Regions from separate parts of the Homo sapiens genome. Here region 2 is linked to region 1. Evidence: fine-mapped expression QTL. A gene starts in region 1. The other region holds a variant in brackets. All regions are shown on one strand. Distances are from middle to middle. Region 1 holds the start of TRIM65 (tripartite motif containing 65). Region 2 overlaps ACOX1 (acyl-CoA oxidase 1).

Region 1 (5,000 bases):
GGCCTCCTCTGTCCCCGAATGATTCCACATCCTGTCTTCGCTGCTGAAATGGGTTTTGTCAAGGGCACGGACCACCTCCACAGTACCGATGCTGAAGGTCATTTCTGTCCTCGTACTGAGCCTCTGATCAGCATGGGCATCCTGCCCGTTCTCTTCCTGGCACCCCTGTCTCCAGGTGCCACACAGGGCTGCCATTCCCCCGACCTTCCCCATCTCCCTGGGAGCTCCAGCTTGGAACCTTCTCTTCCTCCTAGCGCTAATGATTCCCAGCTCTCGACTTCCAGCTCCCCGCTCCTGAGCTTTGGAGCTCACAGCAAGCTCCGCCTCCCGGGTTCACGCCATTCTCCAGCCTCAGCCACCAGAGGAGCTGGGACTACAGGCGCCCGCCACCAGGCCTGGCTAATTTTTTGTATTTTTAGTAGAGACAGGGTTTCACCATGTTAGCCAGGATGGTCTCAATCTCCTGACCTCGTGATCCACCGGCCTCCGCCTCCCAAAGTGCTGGGATTACAGGCGTGAGCCACTGCACCCGGTGGTGGCCAGGCTGCGGGGGGTCCGGCCCCCTCCTGCTCCTGGCGGCAGCACCCACTTGAGGAGGTGACCCTCACTCATGGTGCACAAGCTGCAAACACAACAGCCCTTGGTCTGGCAGAAGAGCTCCAGCAGCTGCCCGGGGCGGGGTCAGCGCGCGGCAGGGCTGGGGCCAGGGTCCCAGGTGCCACAGGCCCGTCCCCTGGTTTGTCCCACTGGCCACTGTGACCTCTATATGTCCAAGGCCAAACTCTGCCCTCCACCTACGCCTCTCAGGACATAGCACCCCAGCCACCTGCGTGCTCAAGACAGAAACCCAGGTGTCTCCCTTGCCGCCCTCTCTGCTGTCCCCCGTGTCCCCTCTGGCCTGCTTTCGCCTCCACAAGGTACCACTTCCCCTCAGCGTTTCTCATCTCCTCCTCCATCTTGGTCTCCCTTCCCTGATCCCCAGCTGGTTCTTTGCCTCCCTGCACTCCTACCCGATTCGGGTCTTACATCCTGCCCCCTTCAGCCCCCAGCCAGGTGATCAGTCTCCATGAAGCCCAAATCTGATCATGTGCCAACCTGCTTCCAAGCCTATAATGGCCCCCATGACCCTACAGTAAGAGCCAGACTCCCCCAGGACCCTGCCCGATCCTGCCCCTGCTGACCCCCAGGGCCTGGCCCACAGATCTCAGTGGCACAAATCTGCCACTAGGGACCCCGCGTGCCCAGTTCTTTCCCATCCCAGAGACGGGACCAGGCTGATTCCTCTGCCTAGAATGCTCTTCCCCAGGTCTTTCTCCTGGCTTGCGCTTCCTCAATCCTCACATGCCAGCCTGAAGGCGGCCTCCCCTTCCTCCTCCTGGCCCGTTTAGCAGGGTCACCCCAACCCCTCTATCACATGCCATGTGCTTTCCTCACTGCATTTTGTAATAATACATTCACGCCTTACTGGAACACTGACTTCTTAAGTGGATTCTAAGTCTCTTAAGGGCAGGGAGCTCGTCTGATCCATTTACCAACAGCCCCCATAGCCCCCTCGCCCTCCACAACCCCGCACAGCGAATGAAAGGAGGCTCTCGGAGCGCAGGAGACACACGACGGTTCTCTAGCGCTTGGGCACGGAGCAGGGAGCTGCTGCCTCACGCCCAGGCTTTGTTCATCCAGAGGGCACCGAGCAGCTTCTGAGACCCACCCTGTGTCACTGGCCGGGCTGCATATCCCAGTCTGATGCACAGACCCACGATTTTTTGTTTGTTTATTTTCTGAGACGGAGTCTCGCTCTGTCGCCCAGACTGGAGTGCAGTGGCACGATCTCGGCTTACTGCAAGCTCCACTTCCCGGGTTCACGCCATTCTCCTGCCTCAGCCTCCCGAGTAGATGGGACTACAGGCGCCCGCCACCACGCCCGGCTAACTTTTTGTATTTTTAGTAGAGACCGGGTTTCACCGTGTTAGCCAGGATGGTCTCGATCTCCTGACCTCGTGATCCGCCCGCCTCGGCCTCCCAAAGTGCTGGGATTACAGTCGTGAGCCACTGCGCCTGGCAGACCCACGACTTTTATAATCAGCTCCCAGGTTGGGAGAAGCCCCTTACAGATGAGGCTCCCCGCCCCCGCCGGGTGCCCGAGAGAGCAGGGCGCGGCCCGCAGGAGTCACCCGGCGGTGGCCAGGCTGCGGCGGGTCCGGACCCCTCCCGCTCCCGGCGGATGCGTCACCTCGCGCTTGAGGCGCTCGGCATCCAGCAGCGCCCGCTCGTGGAGGCGACACTCGCGCACGGTGCACACGCTGCACACACAGCGGCCCTCGGTCCGGCAGAAGAGCTCCAGCGGCCGCCCGTGGCGGGGGCAGCGCGCGGCAGGGTCGGGGCCGGGGCCGGGATCGGGGCCGGGATCCCGGGCGGGCCCGGCGCGCACCACCTCCAGCACGCCGCTGAGGGCCACGTTGCGGCGCAGCTCGGCGCCGTCGGGAAAGGGCTCCCGGCACTCGGGGCACGCCTTTCCGCAGCGGTCCCACCAGTCCCGGATGCAGGCCCCGCAGAAGTTGTGGCCGCAGGGCAGCGTCACTGGGTCCTGGTAGAGCCCCAGGCAGATGGCGCAGGTCAGCTTCTCCTCCAGCAGCTGCGCGGCCATGGCCCGGCGGCGGCGAGAGCCAGGCGGGCCCCGGGCGTCTTAAAGGGACCGCGGGCCTCGCGCGCTGAGGGCGCCTGGGCGTGGCTAACGCGGGGCGGGGCGAGATCCGGGCGGGGCGGGGCGAGATCCGCGCCCGGGAAGGCGGAGGGGGGCGGCAGGCCCTTCTCTGACACCCTCGACGAGCGACCGCCGCAGGGGCCTAGGCCACCCCTGCCCACCTCGGCCTGGCCCGCTCGAAGGTTCCGCGTTCCCGCCTTGCGCCCCTCCCTCCGTTAGGGTCCACGCCACCCCGGCTGAGAGCTGAGTTCGGCTCTCTAGGGTCCCAGCCTGGCGGGTCCATCCCACCCCCCTGGGCCTTCAGCCCAGGTCCTGGAGACCAGAGGCTCGAAAACCCCGCCAGGACTCCGGGCTTCTGACCACGGGCCGCGCGGAACCTCTTCTGGACTCATCTGCCAGTCGCCTAACAGCATAGACCCCCACCCCCAACAATCCCCCGGGGCTTGGCGATGAAACGGGCTGGCGGGCTCCCTGCAGACCCGAGCACTGCTGCACTTTTTCCTGGAGCTGGGTTTCGGACACTTGCCAGACTGGGGTGTCTCCCTTCTCTGGGCTACACGTAATTTTGGTTCTTTTAAAGTAAACAGCGAGATGGAAATGTCTGGTCACCAAGAGACAGGGACCAGTTAACTGGTATTTTTCAAATGGCCCTGAATGAATACACAAACCAGCTTTCATCTGCAATCAGCATCCCCTCTTCCTGCTGCCCTCCGCTGGGGAGAGTTCCTTGCCTGGGGTCCAAGCTGATCTGCAGCCTCAGTATTTACAGGCACTCCAGCATTTCCCCTGAAGCTGAGCAGGCAAGGCGGGTCTGGGGCCTAGCGCCCACCTACCTGACAGTGTGTATCAGGCCAGGGGGAACCCCAGGAGAGTACGGCCTTTCTAACCAAGCTGGGCTGATGTTGAGGCGGCACGAGCTCTCACTGCTGCAGCAAGCACTGCGTCCTCTGTGCGGCCATAGACGAAGTTTCTTTCTGGACAAAGTGCACGGATCTACCCTCCACCTACTAGTTAGCCAGACTTCTGCTTTTGGTAAGGGAGAAACAAAACACCTAACCATCCAGCCGCAAGACTCCATGGGTTTTCTGACCCTGAGCAGGTCTCTTGAGACACGCTGTTGCCTACCTAATGTGGCTTCTCCTCCCAAGCATGGGGTGGGGGCTGGAGCCTGTGCAGAGGGTCAGTGCTCGGGCAGGCACTCTCTCTCCAGGGGCCGGTGGGACCCCCCTGAGGCACAGAGCCAGTGCTCAATAAATGCTCCTTCCTGAGCCCAGCTGCTCTGCTCCACTTTTTCGGGGAGCTGGGTTTCAGGAACCTGCTGGATTGGGATGTCTCCCTTCCCTGGGCCACACCTGTTTTTGGCCCACTGCCTGCTTTTGCTTCGGATCCCAGGGCCCCTGACACCCTCAGAAGACGGAGGTGAGGACGCACTTAGTGGGGTGGGAGGCAGCCCGTTTCCCACCCATGAAGCTCCATCGGGGTCCTCTGGCCCTGGAGCACCGACCCAGGCCAGCTATGGCAGAAATCCCTTTTTTTAAAAAATACAGGCAGGGTCTCATTATATTGCCAGCTGGTCTTGAACTCCTGGGCTCAAGCGACCCTCCCTTCTCAGCCTCCCAGTGTTGGAATTACAGGTGTGAGCCACCAAGCCCGGCAAGAAATCATGTTTATTCACATTCCCCACCCCACCACCTGAGAGTCACTTTCACTCCAAGCCCTGGGCCTGACGGGAGGGGGCCAAAGAGGGGGGCTGCCTAAGGCAGGGCCCAGACCCCACAGTGTGGGCCTCTGGAGCTGTGTCTTTACTCTTGCTGCCGATCAATCCCATGCTCTGAAATGCGCACACTCTGGCTCCTTAGTAGATGCCATAGGTGGGCTCATGACTGTCCCTGTACCGGTCCAGGTAGCGCAGGGGCTGCCGGTGGGGGAAGCGCTTCTGCTTGGGGTGGTAAGGGGGCGGCCGCACGAACTCAAACACCGGCTCCCGCATGTCTGCAAGAAGAGTGAGGGGTACGGGGTGGTCTGCTGGCCTGCGCCCCCTCAGGCTGAGGCCTGCCCACCAGGGACCTGCCGCAGCCTTCCCCTAACAAAGCTTCTCCCTGGCAGGGCAGGCGAGGCCTGGGAGCTCAGGCCCACCCAGTGCCCCAGCCCCATGGCCCTTACCCAGAAGCTGGTGGAAGATGTAGGTGACGGAGTCATCCCAGCGGCACTGGAAGAAGGACAAGCCGGCTGGAGTCATGGTTTCTTGGTGTTTCTTGTAGAAATCAAAAGTGCGGAAGGTCCGCTGGGCCAGCTGATA
Region 2 (5,434 bases), 52 kb after region 1:
ATGATTGTATAAATTAGATTTCAACTGAAAGGACAATTAGCGATTCAGAGAAAGCTCCTAGAAATAGACTGAAAACAAAGCCATACATAGAGTAAGAAATAGAACCTATGGAACTTCCATTTTTCTAACTATAGTTTTTTGTTTTTGTTTTTTCCCAGTTGTTAAAAAAAAAACAACTCACAGTTTCAATATTTTCTGAACCAAAAATCAGAACACATGGTTTGTGTCAAAGGGTTTTTCTGTGCTACGTCTGGGAGTGCTGACCTAAGTGACATTTTTTTTTAATGCCAAATACAGTAATCTCCAAGCTTTTAATGGCTTATGCCAAGATGACAGAATATGTGAAATCTGATTGTCCCAGAGTTACACTCTGCACTCCAAAGCTACAACAGTGCCACAGCTGAGAGGTTTCCCTATACTTCCTACTACTGTGACAATTTAGCAATCCTTCAAATGGAAAATTCCTAATTACACGAGACAATGGTCCTACAGTAGGCCCGTGCGGAATAAGTTCCCTCGTTGGAAAAATGCTAGCATGAATAGTTTGATAAATGCAATCCATCAGCAAAGGAGAGCAAGCAGGCAGAGACTGTGCCAAGCAGAAACTCATTCGCATCAAGTTTTCCAATAAGTTTCCTTCCCCCAGTCCCTTTTCTTCAATCCTGCTTTTAAGCCAGGCCCCAGGGTAAGTCTGGTAGAACACTGAGCAGGAAAGCTTGGAAGGGTTCTACACCACTTCAAAAATACCTTTGCTTAAAAACACTTATATAGCCAGTGATTAGCAATTAAAATGTGAAAATAATCAACTACTCAGTAGTTAAATTCTGCTAATTATCAAAAGTCATAGTCTACTGGGATCAGCAGCATTACAAAAGGAAGTCATATCGCATTTCTTAAGCTTTTTCTGAATGGTTTAACAGGTCTCTTTCAGTGTTAATTGCACTTAAAACATCTGCTTTTTTTCATTTAATCTCTGAAATCTGTTCATTTTTTCCCTCCATTTATAAAAAGGGGTCAATTTATCATTTGCTCTATAGCTATTTGAATTCGAAAAAGATTCCACAAAATTTGAGTTGCACACAGGCGCTTTCTGAAGCAGATTAAACTTGTCCTTGTGACACTTCAGAGCTTGGACTGCAGTGACTTCAGGTGCTTGTAAGATTCGTGGACCTGTGGGGAAAGGAGAGAGAAGAACTACTAATAAAGAGTTTGCCATGTTAAATAGTATACTGTTTTTTGTTTTTGTTTTTGTTTTTTTTTTGAGACTGAGTCCTGCTCTGTTGCTCAGGCTGGAGTGCAGTGGCACAATCTTGGCTCACTACAGCCTCTGCCTCCCAGACTCCAGCGATCTTCCCACCTTAGCCTCCCGAGTTGCTAGAACTACAGGTGTGTGCCATGACACCTGGCTGCTATTTGTATTTTTTTGTAGAGATGGGGGTTTACCATGTTGGCCAGGCTGGTCTAGAACTCCTCAATTCAAGTGATCCACCCACCTCAGCCTCCCAAAGTGCTAGGATTACAGGCGTGAGCCACTGTGCCCAGCCTGTGGTTGTTTCTGAAGAGTCCTTATCTTTTAGAGCTATGCATTGAATTATTTATGGATAAAATTATCTGATGTCTTAGTTTTTTTTTTTTTTTTGAAACGGAGCCTCGCTCTTGTTGCCCAGGCTGGAGTGCAATGGCATGGTCTCGGCTCACCGCAACCTCCGCCTCCCAGGCTCAAGCAATTCTCCTGTCTCAGCCTCCCAAGTAGCTGGGATTACAGGCATGCGCCACCACGCCTGGCTAATTTTGTATTTTTAGTAGAAACAAGGTTTCTCCATGTTGGTCAGGCTGGTCTCAAACTCCCGACCTCAGGTGATCCACCTGCCTCGGCCTCCCAGGTGTGCATCACTGAGCCTGGCCCTGATGTCTTAGATTTATTTCAAAATAGTCCCCAGGAGGAGGGGGATGAAGGTTCAGATGAAACACAACTAGCCACGAGTTGATAGTCATTGCTGCTAGACAAAGGGTGTACCAAAGAGCACTACGGAATTCTCTTTTTGTATATTTTATTCTATTTGTGTGTGTGTGTGTGTGTGTATACTTTTTTTTTTTTTTTGAGACAGAGTTTTGCTCTTGTCACCCAGGCTGGAGTGCAATGGCACGAACGTGGCTCACTGCAACCTCCGCCTCCTGGGTTCTCCTGGGTTCAAGCTGAGGCAGGAGAATTCCCGAGTAGCTGGGACTACAGCCGTGCACCATTACTGCCTGGCTGCTTTTTTTGTATTTTTAGTAGAGATTGGGTTTCGCCATTTTAGCCAGGCTAGTCTCGAACTCCTGACCTCAGGTGATCTGCCCACTCGGCCTCCCACAGTGCTGGGATTACAGGTGTGAGCCAACGCACCCGGCCTGTATATATTTTTAAATGTTCAATTCGTTATCAAAAATTGAAATTGATTAAGACCCTGGTTACTGTGGGAACAACCCAGTTCCCTTCTGAACCTGTTGCTCAAATAAAGTGACTGTCAGAAGTGGCCATGGTACTTTCAGAGCTTTCACAGATAAATCCCCTTCGAGAGGCCTTTCCTGCTTCAATATTTAAGTGAAGACTTTTAAAAAGGTGCAGAGACACTGGATTTTTACCTCTGCTTTGTTCAGTGGGGAGTTCTTAGCCCACTCAAACAAGTTTTCATACACATTCCCATCATAGCGGCCAAGCACAGAGCCAAGTGTCACATCCTGAAAATCAAATGCATCAACCAAAGCAACAGCATCTGAGCGAATCAGAGTGAGTAACTCCTTTACACGCTGGTTTACTTGTGTAATCTGAGGCTCTGTCATGATGCTCCCCTAAAAGAGACCAAAATAAGTAAATAAAACATATATATGTATATAGATAGACATAAT[T/G]ATATGCATATACAGCTATAAAGCGGATGACAATTATTTTTTTCTTTTTTTTTTTTTGAGACTGAGTTTCACTCTTGTTGCCCAGGCTGGAGTACAATGGTGTGATCTTGGCTCACCGCAATCTCCGCCTCCCAGGTTCAAGCAATTCTCCTCCCTTGGCCTCCCAAATAGCTGGAATTACAGGCATGCGCCAGCACACCTGGCTAATTTTGTATTTTTAGTAGAGATGGGGTTTCTCCATGTTGGTCAGGCTGGTCTCGAACTCCCGACCTCAGGTGATCTGCCCGCCTTGGCCAAAGTGTTGGGATTACAGGCATGAGCCACTGTGCCTGGCTATTTTTCTTTTTCTTTTTTTTTTTTTTTGAGACAGAGTATTGCTCTGTCACCCAGGCTGGAATGCAGTGGTTTCATCTTGGCTCACTGCAACCTCTGCCTCCAGGGTTCAAATGATTCTCGTGCCTCAGCCTCCCTAGTAGCTGGGATTACAGGCATGTGCCACTGCACCTGGCTAATTTTTGTATTTTTAGTAGAGACAGGGTTTCACCAGGCCAGGCTGGTCTTGAACTCCTGACCTCAAGTGATCACCGTACCCGCCTTGGGCTCCCAAAGTGCTGGGATTACAGGCATGAGCCACCGTGCCCAGCCAACAATTATTTTTCTTAAAACAACAACAAAAAAGACTTATACTTAGAAAATACTGACCTGAAGGAAATCCCCCGCGTTCTGACTGATTCCATACAGAGAATACAGCAGACATAAACTCCTTAAGACAGCTTGAATGGCTTTATCTTGAATTTTGAGGAGTTTTTCTGAAAAGAGCTTAACTACCACATAGTGGCAATGTGCCTAAGATTAAAAAGAAAACACCAGAGTTTGAGAACCTTGGAAAAAGATTCAATATACAGTGACTAGGGTTTCTGTACCAGAAAATGCGGGATGCTGAGGGCAGGGAAGGGGAAAAAGAGAGAACTACCACTGACCTCACTTGCTCGAACAAGGTCAACAGAAGTTAGGTTCCAAGCTACCTCCTTGCTTTTTCTGTGAATCACTTCTTTTTGAAGGTTTTTTGCAGCAATTTCTACTAATCTGTTAAGACATAGATTGGAGGTCTGAGGAAATGATCAACAGTACTCATGCCTTCTTGCCATCTGTCAGGGCCCCAGCCCCACTGCTGCGTATTCTAGCTCTTGAGGGAGAGCTCACCTGGCTGCACGGAGTTTATATGCTTCGGTTAGGCTTTCGGGGCTGTTGATATCCACCATGGTTGGCCAGACTGCTACCTGCTGTGGCTGGATGCGCTGACTGGGCAGGTCGTTCAAATAGGACACCATGCCACACACCAACTTTCCTGAGTGCACCTGATCATAACTTTTCATCAGGAACCTAAAAGTCACCAGTAAACATGCTTTTAGTAACTCTACTTTCTTTTGTTTCTTTTGAGATGGAGTTTCATTCTTGTTGCCTAGGCTGGATGGAGTGCAATGGCCAGATCTCAGCTCACTGCAACCTCCTCCTCTTGGGTTCAAATGAATGATTCTCCTGCCTCAGCCTCCCAAGTAGCTGGGACTACAGGCACCTGCCACCATTCCTGGCTAATTTTTAATATTTTGTTTTTTTAGTAGAGACAGGGTTTTACCATGTTGGCCAGGCTGGTCTCTTAACTCCTGACCTCAAGTGATCTACCCGGCTTGGCGTCCCAAAGTGCTGGGATTACAGGAGTAAGCCACCACACCTGGCCTTTTTTTTTTTGATGGAGTTTTCGCTCTTGTTGCCCAGGATGGAGTGCAATAGCGCAATCTTGGCTCACTGCAACCTCCGCTTCCCAGGTTCAAGCGATTCTTCTGCCTCAGCCTCCCAAGTAGGCCGGGATTACAGGCAATGTGCCATCATGCCCGGCTAATTTTTTTGTATTTTTTTAGTAGAGACACGGTTTCACCATGTTGATCAAGCTGGTCTTGAACTCCTTACCTCATGATCTGCCCACCTCAGCTTCCCAAAGTGCTGGGATTACAGTCATGAGCCACTGTGCCCAGCCCAGTAACTCTATCCTTGATACAACTGCAAGCTATGTAACAGGTGCTTCATACTCTCTAGCCTCACCACGAAATAAAAACCGTGAGTCAGGATGGAAGGCAAAAGTATACCTTTCAGGAACAAATATATATATACGGTGAAGAAAAACCATGGGAACAAGAACCTAGGAAAAGGACTAGAACATTCTTATGAACAGATGGGAGGAATCGAGGATTTGACTCTCACCTAGCCGTCTGGAGCATCATGACAGTGTTTTCTCCCTCAAAGGTACAGCTTGGGGTGAAATTGACATAAATATTTGGAAGACCACTGCAATGAGAATAGCCATGCCCACCACAAGCCATCCGACATGCTTCAATGCCAGTGTTTGCAGTCCAGGAGGTGAAAGCCTTCAGTCCAGCGGTGAGGGCATGAAGCTGAGAGGACAAGCACAGATCTGTCAGGACATCTGTGGTGCTGAGAGCCCGAGAACCAATGAGAAAACACACCCCTCCTCTAACATCTTGGCCAC

The links. PIP is the estimated chance that this variant, and not a neighbour inherited with it, causes the effect.
Region 2: its variant is the best candidate, but not a certain one, in a credible set for the expression of TRIM65 in tibial artery (GTEx, PIP 0.57).

What each region holds. Positions count from the first base shown.
Region 1 is chr17:75,894,294-75,899,293 of GRCh38, forward strand. It overlaps TRIM65 (tripartite motif containing 65), which reads right to left and starts at 2,658. Exons shown (of 6, transcript NM_173547.4): 1 at 2,231-2,658. The coding sequence starts at 2,644. MRPL38 (mitochondrial ribosomal protein L38) reads right to left here. Exons shown (of 9, transcript NM_032478.4): 8 at 4,865-5,000; 9 at 4,351-4,693. The coding sequence ends at 4,557. RefSeq lists silencers at 1,928-2,497, 2,528-3,007 and enhancers at 2,375-3,084, 3,085-3,792.
Region 2 is chr17:75,945,626-75,951,059 of GRCh38, forward strand. ACOX1 (acyl-CoA oxidase 1) reads right to left here. Exons shown (of 14, transcript NM_004035.7): 9 at 5,149-5,339; 10 at 4,093-4,272; 11 at 3,870-3,975; 12 at 3,592-3,735; 13 at 2,626-2,832; 14 at 1-1,170. The coding sequence ends at 1,123. Among named protein-coding and RNA genes, the nearest start is that of FBF1, 7.3 kb to the left of the region's middle. The variant T/G (reference allele first, on the strand shown) is at 2,890.